Regions from separate parts of the Homo sapiens genome. Here region 1 is linked to region 2. Evidence: fine-mapped expression QTL. Tissue or cell type: tibial artery. Region 2 holds a variant in brackets; the other region holds the start of a gene. All regions are shown on one strand. Distances are from middle to middle.

Evidence for each region. PIP is the estimated chance that this variant, and not a neighbour inherited with it, causes the effect.
Region 1: ITGBL1 starts here. The variant in region 2 is fine-mapped to the expression of ITGBL1 in tibial artery (GTEx, PIP above 0.99).

Annotation. Positions count from the first base shown.
Region 1 is chr13:101,451,305-101,453,990 of GRCh38, forward strand. It overlaps ITGBL1 (integrin subunit beta like 1), which reads left to right and starts at 1,371. Exons shown (of 11, transcript NM_004791.3): 1 at 1,371-1,627; 2 at 2,579-2,686. The coding sequence starts at 1,530. RefSeq lists an enhancer at 949-1,453.
Region 2 is chr13:101,721,300-101,723,985 of GRCh38, forward strand. It overlaps FGF14 (fibroblast growth factor 14), which reads right to left. Exons shown (of 5, transcript NM_004115.4): 5 at 1-1,668. The coding sequence ends at 1,532. Among named protein-coding and RNA genes, the nearest start is that of FGF14, 190 kb to the right of the region's middle. The variant C/T (reference allele first, on the strand shown) is at 1,583.

The DNA of each region.
Region 1 (2,686 bases), 270 kb before region 2:
AGGCTAGTGTTGTGGTGGTCTTACCCTTATACCTACTTATATATAAAGGACAGGGAGAAATCCCATCCTATTATGGCTCATCCCTGATTTTAAGGATCTGGGACCACAGATGATTCTTGGATGGTTCTATTTCATGAGGAAGGATTGCATGTACAGTGCTCTTCTTAGGGTGAATGAAAAATGTTTTCCCCCTTCCATATAACCCTCTACACATTTTCCCAGATGACCATAAATGTAGGGGATAGTGTATGCACTTTGGATTTCAGCTGAAATACGACTAACTTCCTCTGTGAATTTGAGCAAGTCAGTTGACCTCTTTGCCCTCAGTTTCTTTATCTTTAAAATGGGAGTAAGAATGTCTCCCTGTTCTCTTCCATCTCCTTCTTATTTCTACCCAATTTAATTCAATACTTTTTTCAGTTTTTTGTTCAGATGCTACCATCTTTGATTAGATCAAGTGCCTGTATCTCATCTGGAAGTAACTTCTCACTGCACTTGCAACCCTTTGTTCTTTTTTTTTGTGGTTTTGTGTTGATTAATGTCTTTCTAGCTCATTGGACTCTGAGAGAGCAGGGATCATGTCTCCTTAGTTCTCTGTTATATTCATTCTGTCTTGCACAAAACCTGGCACCTGATAGATGCTAAATCCCCATTTGCTAATGCATAAATAAATGTGTGATTATTGTCATAATTAGAGAAAACATACTAAATGACTGGCACATAGTAGGTGCTTAGTAAATGACACCAATTGTTTTTCAGTGCAATTTGTGCTATAAATAAACATTTAATTTTCTTTTCTCACATTTGATATATGGGGAGAATGGGGTGAATTTGAGACAACTACAATTTAAACTGTCCAAGTCACCAACAAATTGTGGTGTGATAAGCTACTGGCCTAAACAGCTGGAAGCATGACACGCTTTTTAAAGACTAAAGAAATGAAATATCCAGTTTAAATCAAAGGATAATAAATGCAAGAAAAAGTTGTGTTTGTCAGATTTCCTTGCCCCGGCCCCAACCCAAACTCCAAAGAGTGCATCTACTTTAAAAGCGTGTGGTGAAAGTAATTCCCTACCCAAGTGTTCCCACTACTGTCACTGGCCTCACCCTTCTCCACAACTCAGGGATTATTTTAAAGGTTTCTTTAATATCGGCCAGTCCAAATATTCTCTTGTCAAATATTTCTGTGGCCCGTACTTGAAATCTGTGAACAGGACACTTTTTTTTTTTTTAATGTCAAAATAAACCATCTGCTTGTACAACTGTTTCTAATTACTTCCCTGCCTAGACTCTCCACTGAGGGGTTTGGCACCAGCACCCCGCCCAGAGCAGTGCCGCTGCCCAAATCCTCGCAGGCAGCTCATCAACGCAATTGCAACTCCGGCTGGAGCCCCGGACCTGCAAGCCTGGGTGTCCGTGGGTCCGTCTGCCCAGCCATCTGCTGGTGGCACCTCTCCCTCCTGCCGCCTCCCTCGGTGAACCCCACCTTGCAGAAGTGCAGCTCGCCCGGAGCAGCCCAGGAGCTCAGCATGCGTCCCCCAGGCTTCAGGAACTTCTTGCTGCTGGCGTCCTCCCTTCTCTTTGCTGGGTTGTCAGCTGTTCCTCAAAGCTTCTCGCCATCTCTGAGGTAAGTTTGGTTTGTTATTCTTCAGTACAGACCTGCCCTGCTTATGTGGCAGGGCTCAAGCTTGCAGGATGGCTGCCCTAAGCCAAGAGCTGTTATTAAATTGGACAAGGGATAAACTGTTTTCAACCTGTTCCTTTTCCTCTCCTTATATCTACAGCGTGTATTGCCTCATGTCTGTCCTTTTGCTTTTCCTTTGGAAAAATGCAATCATTGAATAAAAATATAATTTTCTTTTCTGCAAATACATATCAGGAGGAATTCCTGCTGTGAGTTAAAATGCTATGTGTACCAGTATCTTCTCACAACATGTAAAGCAGAATGATCTGTTTCCCAAGGGCAGCAACAGGAGGTCTGTGTTACATTTTGTATCATCCTGAAAGAGACTGAGTGAGGCACACTGCAATAGTGAAACTAAACTTTTTAAAAGTAGAGTTCCTAAAGACTGCTTAATGCAAATTATGCCCGATGCTATCATAGCATGTCTAACTCTTTCTATAGATTCACGTTTTCTCTTCTGTAATATAAGTGCCCATTGGCCATCAGATAGCAGTGGGACGTTTTTTAAAGGAGAACTGAAAAGTCAGCTGAGTGCCGTACCTTGGATTACTTTGTATTTAATCTAAATGTGCATATAAGATTTAGTGATAAACTACCAAAGAGCAGGGCAGTTCACCTCTGTCCACCTGGAGGAAGGACCTGTGTCCGGGGGCAGGTCACCCATTACACATTTTGGGCCCTGGTCATTTCTCTGGTGGGTGATACCTGTTTGCTTGGGAAAATACAGCCCTTCCAGGCAGCGCTTGGACCCCAGAGAGATGTGGGCCTCAGGCGTCCTGTTCTTGGGGTTGTACGTCTGCACCTGGAGGGGACACTGGGGAGGAAACGTGGGTTCGGAGCAGGGGGCGGCGTCCGCGTCTGACCCGGCCTGCCGGTTGCTTGTCGCCCGCGCAGGAGCTGGCCGGGCGCCGCCTGCAGGCTGTCCCGGGCCGAGTCGGAGCGACGCTGCCGCGCACCTGGGCAGCCCCCGGGGGCCGCGCTGTGCCACGGCCGGGGCCGCTG
Region 2 (2,686 bases):
ACTGTTCCTGGCCTTTCTTGGTAGTTGTCTTCCCTAAGCTCAAACAAACAGTGTTAAACTAAAAAGGAAATTAAGAATGCAAAATAAAAGAAAATAAATGGAATGGACCAAAATCCTCATGGATGAATGTGTTGGTTTGCCTTTATTTTCATCTAGGATAATTCAACAGACTGTATTCTGAGATCATGGCAAGGCACCTCTAACCCAGCCACTGGGCAACATGAGCCCCAGATGCTGAGCTAGAGGCATGTACTGGTGAAATACACAGTACCGGACTCAGCATGCTGAGCTAAAAAAAATATTTTTCCTAATATGTCCAGTTTAAAAACTTGTCATTAAACACCAAAAATATTAAAGTCTAATTAATTTATAACTAACGTTTGCATTGCTGCTGCAGGAAAGAACACAACAGCCGTCTTGCCCATGCTCTGCTGAGTATGAGGGGAACGCAGCCAGAAACGGGGATGGCGTTAAGTTTGGTTCATTAAAAACAGGACGGAGTATATCTGAAATGGATTTAGGTAGCGCAATTCTTGTAGGTTATAATTACTGATTTTCCTTTTTTTTTTTTTCCAAATAATGAGAATTAATAGATGAAAAATGAACCTTAATCAGGCCTACAAGGCCTACAGAAATCTTTGGACCCACTTTCTCAAAAACCAGTGGGTCTTGCTCGCTGGGCAAGGCAAATGTTACCATTACCAGTAAGCTTGTGATATGTATAAAACACACACACACAAAGAAACTAGAGGGGGATGTCAAACACATATCATAGAGAGCTTCCCTGGATTGTGTTTGAGCCATTTCCCACCCAGGCAATGCCGACCTTGGGAGCACAGTATCTGCTACTGGACAGAGCGTATATGTGTGTTTAATCGATAGTGTGAGCCAGAGACAACAATCTTTCTTAATCTTTCTTTATAGATGCAATTTGTAATAATAGGTTTAGAAGGCTTCCTGATTCCCTGATTGCTCTCCGACCTAAGCCAACTGCAACATTTAAGATTTAGAGGAACAAAATCCCTGCAAAAGGTCACAGACAGTGGAGCGAGCAGCCCTGTAAAAATGGGAAGAAGAGAAATCCGTAATAGCACAGGTTTACAGCGTCTAACTAGAAATTACTCAATATTATTTGTGTGCTACAAAATTGAACTTAAACACATAGATTTCGCTGAAACAGGACTCAAAAAGGATTATGGGTAGCTGTCAGCAGGCAAGGTATCGAGTGTACTTGTGAAGTATGTCATTCACATGAAGTGTCACAGTCACAGAAAAGATATTAAAAAGGCATTCCATATCTGGTAGGGCATTCCATGGTCTGAGTTTAGCTGGTTATCCAGGTGTCTTCTTGTTGTGGGGGGTGCAACAGGTTGAGATTTATCCACTTGCAACAGAGAAGTTCGGAGACAGCAAAGAATAAGCATTAGCTTACTTCCTGCTGCTCTTCAGCCACGGAGCAGGAATGTCTGGTGAGGATAAATCACTCAACTGTGCTCAGGACGAATAAGTCACAACACCTGTGAGGATCTGGCTATGTTGTCTTACTCTTGTTGACTGGTTTGCCTCCATTCATTATTGCAGA[C/T]GCACTTGTGCTTTTACTTGGCGTCACCCCAGGCTTCGGGACCGTTTCCCCAACATCATGCAAAGATGGTTCTCGGTACATGGCAACTAGTGATGGGAAGAAAGGAGGAGGAAAAGCAAACATTGCTTGGTTAGGTGTGAGAATGGTCCATCCATACCTGCATAGACCACTGCAGTTTGCCCATTTCTGTTTTCCCTGAAGTAAAGCAATTCCATTGAGACAGAATTCCTGTTGTAAAGCAATCATTTCCAGCCCACAGAGGACATTACTCCCTTCACATTCTCTGGTCTGTATACCTAAAATATGTATATGAGTGTGCATGGATTTTTGTCTAGGACAGCAGGTTTAAATGGGAGCTATGGCCTCTTTGTGGGTCCATGATGTAAAACACACACACACACACACACTATAGGAGAATGACAGGCATTTAACTTAATTCTCAAAAAAAGAAAACTCAGACATCCCTTCCACTGCACATTAATATCAACACATGAACTTCTCATTCACTTCAATCAATCTTTGTGAGCTGCGGTATTTACATCCTAGAACATTAAATTACTTTCTTTCATGTGGTTCAAAAGCAACATAGTCATACTAGTGTCAACTTCAAAGCTACACAAAATAATAACAAATAACTCTCTTCCCATAAGCCAGAGCCTTCAGGAGATTATCATTTCAATGTTCATTTCCTACAATCATGGAAAAAGACCCTTGGGCAGCAGAAGGCAACTCATTTTCTGCTATGTTATTAAAAATCTAATAATTGACATGATACAGGGGCAGAAAACAGAATGGCAAGACAGCAACTGAAACTACCTGAATAAACTCTGAGGATTTATCTAAATAGTGTCTGGTGGCATAATCATAGTAGTTCACGTGGCTTTTTAGAAAATGATTTCTGGAAGTCCTGAGAAAGGACATATAAGAGTGACTGATGGTTGGGGAAAACTAGGGATTAAAGTCATCTGCCATCAGAAATACAAGTGCATTAGAGCTGCCCAAACTGCTTTTTAGGTTTTTGAAAGTTTAAGGTATTTTACGAAGAGCCCTTAGATTTAGTTAAGATGAACTACCATATGCATTCCCTATGTTCAAGGGGGTAGA